2 separate regions of the Homo sapiens genome follow, and region 1 is linked to region 2. Evidence: fine-mapped expression QTL. Tissue or cell type: sun-exposed skin. Region 2 holds a variant in brackets; the other region holds the start of a gene. All regions are shown on one strand. Distances are from middle to middle.

The links. PIP is the estimated chance that this variant, and not a neighbour inherited with it, causes the effect.
Region 1: it holds the start of BPIFC, and the variant in region 2 is fine-mapped to the expression of BPIFC in sun-exposed skin (GTEx, PIP 0.98).

Annotation. Positions count from the first base shown.
Region 1 is chr22:32,462,529-32,467,528 of GRCh38, forward strand. It overlaps BPIFC (BPI fold containing family C), which reads right to left and starts at 1,918. Exons shown (of 17, transcript NM_174932.3): 1 at 1,846-1,918.
Region 2 is chr22:32,440,211-32,445,474 of GRCh38, forward strand. BPIFC (BPI fold containing family C) reads right to left here. Exons shown (of 17, transcript NM_174932.3): 8 at 2,461-2,521. Among named protein-coding and RNA genes, the nearest start is that of BPIFC, 22 kb to the right of the region's middle. The variant A/C (reference allele first, on the strand shown) is at 2,297.

The sequences.
Region 1 (5,000 bases), 22 kb after region 2:
ACTAAAATAATAAATTTTTATTTCTTTACCCTTTACAAAACTCACAGTTCTTTGAAGTGGATGTTCTTATTATCTTACTCCCATTTTAGACACGTGGACATGGAGGCTTAGAGAATCTGATGACTCGTCCAAGATCCCACAGTAAGTAAGGCACCTGGGAACCCAACCTTGTTCTTCTGGTTCCTAATTCTAGTGTTGATGAATTTATTTTTATTGAATGACTCGATACATGCTAGGGTTTTCATTTTCATCTGGGAATTTTAAATAGGAGTTGCTTGACACCATTTTCCTTTTTGTTGTTGTTGTTTAAAAGTTACTCAATTTTTTTTATTACACTTTAAGTTCTAGGGTACATGTGCACAGAAAACCAAACACCATTTTCAAGGTGGAAAAATTCAATAAGCATCTAGAAACGTTCAAGCATCACAGTGCAAATCCCTTCTTATTTTCTTGGACACAACTGGAGTTTTAAATTCCCTGCCAGCAGTAAAACCTGTTTTCCCTTCTTGGTTAAAAAAAGTTTCTGAAGTGGTACACTTTGATGGAGATCCAGGAATCCAAAATTACAGGCAGGAAAACATATTTTTCCTCTAGAAATTTTATGAGTGAAAGAAATTACTGGGGTATGAAGGGGTGAATTGTACATAACTTTTCATTGAATTGTTCAGTTACGATGATAACTTATGGGCAGGGGAGGAAAGGAACCTTGTCAAGCAAGGTGATGACTACTAAAAGGTTAAGTAATTTGGCTGACAAGTGCAGGCAGGGCTAGTTGCCTGTTAAAAGGATCCAAGATCACTTAAAAACCCCACCAGCAAGTTATCTATTTTGTTGCTTCTGGGGAATTGCTTCTTTCCAAGATTCAAAATCTCAGTAGTCATTATTTTTCCATACAAATACACAGACAGAATAATACTCCTAAATTAAATGGTCCTTGTGTGAGTCATCCTGACAGCTAAGAAAATGCCAGTCCAATTTAGAAAACACCTGAAACTCACAGATGGTCCTACTACTACTGCTGCTTGGCAAGAGCTTTGACTGACTCTGGAAAAACCGATTAAGGGAGTAATGAATGAGTAAAATGTAGCCTTCAAAACAGAGGCGCAGGTTGAAAAATTAAGTTCAACAGGTTTAAAGAAGTCTAAACTAGAAGGGTATTCCGACATATTGGTTAAGACAAAATGACCGTACATAAGAAGTCTAAATCGACAGGTATGGAACGTGGGCAGAATATTTCAAGGGATCCACTCCTCACATCTAGTTTTATAGCAACATCTCTAATGACAAGGACCTTGAGAATTCATAGCATGTCTTTTCCCCAAAACTCTATGCCTAACACCAACAAGTTCAACAGTCCAGGCAAGTGGGTGGCTAGTTTTGCTCTGGCAGGATCTAGGTCACTGATGTGCTTTAAGACCTGCCTTGAAAGCACAGAGATTATAACAACTCCTTAGTCCTAACCATGCTGATTTTGAGAGACAAGATAGAATTTTCTGCCACTGTGCTGGGTTCCCCTCTGAAATGGAGGCAAAAATAAGTCCAGATCACTGAGCAACCCTCTTAACATTGTTCCATGATGCAAAACTAAGTAGGTGGTTTAAACCAACTCTTTTCTCTCTTATGGCTGTTTAGCTGTCACTAAAGCTTTTGCCTAAGAAGCCTCCAGGTGCGCATATGTGACATCACACAAACAAACAAACAAAGATACAGAAAAATCTAGGCAGACAATAATAATAACCCAGGATATATGACAGCTGCCTGTTCAAAGTGTCCTACCAAATCTGGGACATCTCCAGTTTGGAGATCATGGCTGGCAGAGACCTGAAGTTTGTTCATGAGTCTTACCTCAAGCAGAGGAAGTGTCCAAAGCTGGAGAGCACCTTCGATTCTCTCTGCCTTTGAAGCTGATGTGTTCTCCACCTTGCGCCTTAAACTCAGCTGCTAAAAAGCCAAGATAATTAAGTCTGACTCATCTCAGTGGTGAATTTTTTTAATGCCTCTTTCAAAATGTGATACATAATTGCTTCACTACAATTACCCAATGGCATGAATGAGCACTACAGTATCTACCTAGATAAACAGACAGTGCCACCTATGCAATAATTATCTTCCTGCAAAACACACACACACACACACACACACACACACACACACCACTTGTGAAATTGTGATGGCTACTTTACCAAAATGATTGAAAACGGTGTTAAACTGCATTGGAAGAGGAAGAATTTTCCTGTCTGGAATCATAAGCTGGTTCCTTCTGGTCAGGGTGCCTGCGGTGGATGGCTCTACTACTGCCCAGAATACCTTTGGGACTTGTGGTGGATCATCAGATTCAGTCTGAAAGCATGAGGCTTGACAATCGGGCTGACCTAGTTACCTTATCACTCAGGGTAGGACCTCAGTTGGCATCTCTCAGTGTCCGTCCGCTCCTTTTCAGAATGTTATTAATGACTTACTGTTCCAGCATTCCTTAAACCTAAGTTGGGTGGGTGGGTTCATCAACTATTATGCAACTTAACATTTTCAGATTCCAAACTCCAGCCCTACTCTCATCTCCAATAAATTCATTTTAGTTAATGTGTTTTATCTATTTTTATTTTTATTTATTTATTTTTTGAGATGGAGTCTCACTCTGTCACCCAGGCTGGAGTGCAGTGGAGCGATCTTGGCTCACTGCAACCTCCGCCCCCTGGGTTCAAACAATTCTCCTGCCTCAGCCTCCCTAGTAGCTGGGATTACAGGAGTGCGCTACCACGCCCAGCTAATTTTTTGTATTTTTAGTACAGACAGGGTTTCGCTGCATTGGCCAGGCTGGTCTCGAACTCCTGACCTCATGTGATTGATCCACCCGTGTTGGCTTCATAAGTGCTGGGATTACAGATGTGAGCCATCATACCCGGCCATTAATGTATTTTAGATGGCCAGGGATTTGATTGTATGAAGTTTTTTTTTTTGTTTTTTGGTTTTTTTTTTTTTGAGACAGTCTCACTGTCACCCAGGCTGGAGTGCAGTGGCATGATCTTGGCTCACTACAACCTCTGCCTCCAGGGTTTAAGCGATTCTTGTGCCTTAGCCCTCTGAGTAGCTGGAATTACAGGTGTGCACCACCAAACTTGGCTAATTTTTGTATTTTTAGTAGTGATGGGGTTTCACCATGTTGGCCAGGCTGGTCTTGAACTCTTGACCTCAAGTGATCCACCTGCCTTGGCCTCCCAAAGTCCTGGGATTACAGGCATGATCCACCGCACCCAGCCTGATTGCATGAAGTTCTTATGGCTTATCTACACTTTTCTGGGTAAGACCCGGTGACCAACTGTCCTGGTTTCCCAAGAATGCAGGATTTTCAGTACTAAAACCAGAACAGTCCTGGGAAAATCAGGATGATAAGTCAGTCTGAAAGGAACCACAGACGCTTTCACTTGGCATTGTCCATACTTCTCACAGCTTCTCAGGGGAGTTATACCTTGGGTTATACTTACTGATTTGAACTGAGTTTCCTTAAGGTAAAGTGGGGATAGAAATAGTAACTTCCTTGATTGGTTCTGGTGAAGAAAAACATAATAACACATGAGAATGCGCTATTAAAACTGTAAACTGCTGTGAAATTCTACTCATTAGCACGTGGCCGTATCAATAATGATACGGTGCAGAGACGCTCTTCATGGGATCATTTATTGTCGGTCATCATAGATGAATTCATTCATTCAATCAACAGATTTACTGAGCACCTACAATGTGCAAAGTCCTCTTCAGCAAAAAAGATGAAATTTTTGTCCACGAGGAGTTTATGTTCTAGTCGATGGAGACAAAATAAATAAGCAAACAATAAAATAAACAAAAATGTATAAATTGTGACATGTACTGTGACGGAACTAAGGGAATGTTGTTGGTAAGGTGGTCTTGTAATAGGTAGAGCAATGCAACTGGGGGAGGTGGGCTTATTTTATCAGGATACCCACGTGGGCGTCTCTGAGGAGGTGATTATTTGCGCTGAGATGTGACCGTTGGAAGCCAGGCAGGCAAAGTGCTGAAAGGAAAAGGTGGAGGGAACTGCAAAGGTGAGCCAGTTTGTCTGAAATGGAGTTGGGGCAGAAGTTATGGTATTCGAGATGTAAATGGTGATGTCAGGTGGGTAGAGTTCAGGGAAGAGGTCAACTGGAAATATGAATGTCTAAGTCATCATCCGAAAGGTGGAGTTAAAGCCACAGAAATGAATGAGATCATTGCAGGCAGCTTCCCACGTGCATGTGCTACTGAAAGTGTGGAAGATGAGTTCAGGCGCTATGCAGAGAAGCTCTTGAAATTGTACTGTGCATTAGAAAAAATACAGAGCTAGACATGGAAGACGAAGGACAACATGGAAGATGAAGGACAACATCAAAAGCACTATATGGAAAAAAAAAATCACAAAACACCTCTACATCTTTCTACCTTTTCCTCACTATTTTCCCCGGGTGGCAACATCAATTTCCTCCCCCGCCCCCTCTCTCCCTGTCCTTCTCCAGGGTCCGAGGTCTCCTCTTTCGTTTCTCTCCTCTCCAGAGCAGCTTCTTGGCTCCATCTTCTTCCCCTGCTCCCACCTTCACTGTCTGGCCCCTGCCCAGCCCATCCCCTGCTCATTCTCAATTCCTTTTCTCTGTTAGAAAGAAACCAACAATCGGCTGGGCGTGGTGGCTCACGCCTGTAATCCCAGCACTTTGGGAGGCCGAGGCGGGCAGATCACGAGGTCAAGAGATCAAGACCATCCTGGCTAACACAGTGAAACCCCGTCTCTACTAAAAACACAAAAAATTAGCCGGGCTTGGTGGTGGGCGCCTGTAGTCCCAGCTACTCAGGAGGCTGAGGCAGGAGAATGGGGTGAACCTGGGAGGCAGAGCTTGCAGTGAGCCAAGATCTCGCCACTGCACTTCAGCCTGGGCAACAGAGCGAGACTCCCTCTCAAAACAAACAAACAAACAAACAAACAAACAACCATAAAATAACAGTATCTTTCCATC
Region 2 (5,264 bases):
CTGCAGCCTCAACCTCCTGGGCTCAAGTAATCCTCCTACCTCAGCCTCCCTGTAGCTGGGACTAAAGGCGCACGCCACCATGCCTGGCTAATTAAAAAAAAATTTTTTTTATATAGAAACAAGGTCTCACTATGTTGCCTAGGCAGGTCTTGAACTCCTGACCTCAAGCAATCCTCCCACCTTGGCCTCCCAAAGTGCTAGGATTACAGGAGTGAGCCACTGCGCCTGATATTTCTTAATCTAATGGGCTAGGTGCTGTGCCTGACGCTGGGGGCACAGCGGTGAGTCAAAGTTCCTGCACCCAAGGAACTCATAGTCTTGGGGAGTAGACAGATATATCAACAGGAAATTATAATACAACACAGCAAAGGCTGATCTAAACTGGGCTCCTGATGATCCTGCTACAAACTTGTTCTTAGGTTCTTTCCCATCTCAATAAATGCTAAATCCCTTCTTCCAATTTTCCAATTGCTTAGGGTTTTACCCACCAAAGTCACCCTTCACTCTTCTCCTGACCTACATTTGATCTGTTGCACAAAAACCACTGTCTTGACCTTCAAGGTACATCCAGAATCCCAACATGCCTTACCATCTTCATCACCCCACCCTAGGCCGGCCACCATCATTAATTGTATGGGTCACTGCACTCATCTCTTAAGTAGTCTCTTTGCTTTTGCCCTTGACCCCCTTCCTTCCTGTCTATTTTTTTTAGCACAGAAGCCAGACCGATCTCCTTAAACTGTAAGTTAAGTCATGCCGGCCTTACTCTTCAAAGGCATCCCATCTTAGATTAAGAGGTGGACTTTGCAGTCCCTACACATCCCTGAAGATCAAACCATCCCCTCTTCCCCATCTCTGGCCTCATTGCCTGCTCTCCCCCAACCCCCTGCTCCTAGTGTGTCCTTCTCACAGCCTCCCCAGCACACTTGAGATATTCAGCCTCAGGGTTTTTGTGCCTGCAGTTTCCTCGATCTGGAATCTTCATCTAGATTGAGCAGCAGCTCACTTTCTACTCCCTTTGGGTTTTTCTAGTAATGCCACCTGCTCAGTGGTGGCTTTCCTGGTCACTCTATCTAGAATGGAAATTCCTCTCCACCTCCTCCACTGCTTTATTTTTCTTCTTACCACTTATCACTGCCATAACTTAGATTTTACTTGTTTATCTTGCTTGCTGTCTGTCTCCTCCCACTACTCCCATGACGGCAGGTATGTCTGTTGCCTGGGAATACTGCTGCATCCCCAGCACCAAGAACAGTGCTCAGGCTATTTCAGGTGCTCAGCGCGCCATTGGTGAATGAATGGATGGAGTGCAAAGTGAGAGAGAGATGTCCAAAGTGTCATGTGAGCACAGAGGAGGCATAACTTTACGGAGTGGGGGCTGTCAGGTAAGGTTTCCTGGAAGAGGCTATGTCTGAGCTGGGTCTTAAATATAAAGAGGAGGGAACACAACATATAAAGAGAGATAGAGAACGGAAAGGATTAAATCCTCCAGGGTTTAGCACAGTGCTGGCTAAACTCTGCAGGTTTAGAAATGGGCACTCAATATGTATCTGTTAAAGCAGCGGTCCTCAACCTTTTTAGCACCAGGGACCAGTTTAATGGAAGATGATTTTTCCATGGCCTGGGGTTGGGGGGGATGGTTTCGGGATGAAACTGTTTCACCTCAGATCATCAGGCATTAGATTCCCATAAGGCACATGCAACCTAGATCCCTCGCATGCACGGTTCACAATAGGGTTCGCACTCCTATGAGAATCTAATGCTGCCACTGATCTGACAGGAGGCAGAGCTCAGGCAGTAATGCTCAGTCGCCTGCCCACTGTTCACCTCCGGCTGTGCAGTCCAGTTTCTAACCTGTCTGTGGCCCAGGGACTGGGGACTCCTGGGTTAAAGGAATGAAAGGATGGAGGAGAGAGGAAGCTCTTCCAGGCAGAGAAAACAGCAAAAGCAAAGGCAAGGGGTGAGGAGGGCAGTGGAAACAGTTTGATTGCTGGGGCAGAGAAAGGTAAAGAGAAAGATGAAGCAGAGAGAGGTAAGTAGGAGATGGGGTGTGGTGAATCTTGTAGTCCATGCTAAGGTGCGAGGACTTGATGCTCAGGGCAGCCACTGCAGGCTGAGAACCCCAGAATAACCTGGTCAAGATCAGTGTTAATCCCTCTGAAGAGAAGGGATGTAATGTCACTGCTTGGGTTCGTGCTCGTGAGGGTTTAGTTCCTGAACCTACATCTCATCCCCCTGGAGCCACCCCTCTTGTGGCAGTGAAGTTAGTTATTAGCCAAAGAGTACATATGCCCTA[A/C]GCACAAGGCACATCCTCCCAAGCACCTTCCCGGGGCTCTAATTTGCAGAATATGAAGCAGGATGGATAGCTCAAGCTATACCGCCTTGAAAAGCAAACCCAGGCAGTACCAGCTTTTGAAGGTAGGAAGACAACCATCTGGAAAAGACAGTTCTAAGACTCACCCTCCAGTGTGCTGAGGTTGGCATTTAGCGCTTTGACTTCACTTGCAATAATGGGACAGAGCTGGCCACAAAGGAATAAAAAGAAAAAAGCAAGTTACCATGTTGTACTGGAAAGCCTTATTGATGGGCCTAGACCCTGCAAACAAAGGCCTTCTGGTTAGCAGTCATTATCCCTTTGGTCATCGAGACATTCTCTTAAATTTGTTGATGTCTATGGGCCTCGCTTTACGTAGATACGGGTGGTATGTCACTGAATGCCAGCTGAACTTTGTAGCAACTAGCACTACATCCAATCAGCCCTGTAAAGAGTGAGTGAGCCCTTGTCGTTTCTTTCTGTGACATGATAGGGCATGCGTCCCAGTCCATGCTGTTATACCCGAGGAACCTGCTGCTGGAGCTGCTGTATCTTTCCTGACTGCTGGGGGTGCCGCCAGCTTGCCATCTCCTCTAGGAGCGGTTGCATGCCCTACCTGGAATGGTTAGAGCTGGAGCTTTTTTTTTTTTTTTTTTTGAGACGAAGTCTCGCTCTGTCACCCAGGCTGGAGTGCAGTGGCGCGATCTCGGCTCACTGCAAGCTCCGCCTCCCTGGTTCATGCCATTCTCCTGCCTCAGCCTCCTGCGTAGCTGGGACTACAGGCGCTCGCCACTATGCCCGGCTAATTTTTTGTATTTTTAGTAGAGACGGGGTTTCACCGTGTTAGCCAGGATGGTCTCGATCTCCTGACCTCGTGATTCACCCGCCTCGGCCTCCCAAAGTGCTGGGATTACAGGCGTGAGCCACCGCGCCCGGCCCCAGAGCTAGAGCTTTTACTTTCCCCCTGGGCTAGTTGGAGAGCACATTATATCAGAGATCTACTTAGAGATCTATTTTGTTGCCACCTTTTTGGAATTTGAAAATTAGTCTTGAGTCACATTAATATTTTTAGGAAGGGGCAGAGGTATCAGCACTGATGTGCCTCTTGTGTGCTCATTGATGTGCTTGGCATAGTGGGTACAGCACAGGCTTGGCTGCCTGGGGCCGAGGGTTGAATCCCTTGGCAAGTTACTTGTATTCTTTGATCTCAGTTTCCACATCTGCAACATTTGCATGGGGATGATAATTGTGTCCACCTCATCACATTGTGAGTAGAAATGGAAGTAATCCATGTAAACTTGCCCAGCTTATAGTAAGCATTGAGTAAGTGTTAGCCGTTGTTAGTTTAACTCCATTTCACCTTCACTACAGCCTTGAGAGGGAGGCATGACGGTCCCCTAATTACAGATGGGAAAACCAAAGCTTAGAGAGGTTAAGTGAGTTGCCAGGTGTTGCATAGCCGGGATTTGAACTCAGTTTACACAGCTAGACAGCTGTGGTCTCAGCATTCTTTTCTATCTTCCAGTGGCACAGAGAGAATCACAGAAACATCTATTATCTTTAAGCCATAAATCAATTTCAGGCAAACTTAATTATTGGCTTCTGTGACATAACTCATTCTTCACTGGCCTCCTGTCAGAGGCAAAAGGACCGTGCCTCGTTTCAAACAGGGGAATGATCAAGTTTGGGGTCCTTGAGGATGACAGTGCACTTTGCCAGGGACTCTAATATGCACACTCATTGGCACTCAGCATCTGTCAGGTAAGGATGGAGAAGGACTATAAGGCTTCTGAGTCCTGGACAGCTGCGCCACCTCCTGGGATGAGCTGCTTGATGCTTCTGAGTGTTGATTTCCTTACGACTTTCATTAAGCACCTATAATGTCTGTCAAGCACCGAGCTGAGCACTAGAGAGATGGACGTGACCAGACCCTGTCTTTGTCCCTTCTTTTCCAGAAGAGTCTTCCTTCTTTTCTATTCCTCCTCATCCCTGTCCTTATCTCCCCCAAAATACAGGTAAACGGTTCAGGGAAGGTGTGGTCATTATTGGAAAGAGAGTGCATAGACAATTCCATCTTTCCCTTCTTCAGACACTGACTTCTGAGACTAGAAGCCTTATAGCTTTGGAAAGGATCTTAATATATTCTATTTTCTTAACTTATTCCTATTGTATGTCCTGGAAATACCTCTTCTTATCCTTCATTCCTTACATATACAAATCCTACCTATATGTTAAGATCTAGTTCAAGTTCTGCATCCTGTAAAAATTATCTCCCAGGACACTTCCAGGCCCTATTTCTTCAAAATTTTCCATTTCTCTGAACCTCTCCTGCTCAATCTAATGATCGTGTAACTGTATACTAAATTCAAGTACTCAGTTAGTTATTGTTTCACAAGCCCGAGTTTGAGCTTTTGAATACACAAGTGTATCCCTCTGTCCTATTCCCAACAGATCCTAGTCCATGGCAGCTGAGCATGCAATAGGTACATAATAAGTAAATTCTTGTTGGTTGTTTGCCCACCCTATGGTAAGAAATTTGAGAGATGTGCTGTTGCTTTCTTTATCTCTGCATCCCAAGCACCTACCACAATATTTGGCACATAGTAGGGATTTGAGAAACTGTTATTAAGTTGCAAAGGATATTTAATGTGTGTGAAAGTGCCTTGGATAGTGCCTAGCACACAGTAGATGCTCAATAAAGGTTTCTTGATTAAGAATTAATTAAAGGATTGGCCAGGCGCGGTGGCTCATGCCTGTAATCCCAACACTTTGGGAGGCCAAGGTGCGCGGATCACGAGTTCAGGAGATCAAGACCATCCCGGCCAACACAGTGAAACCCCGTCTCTACTAAAAATACAAAAAATTAGCCGGGCATGGTGGCGGGCACCTGTAGTCCCAGCTACTTGGGAGGCTGAGGCAGGAGAATCCCTTGAACCCAGGAGGCGGAGCT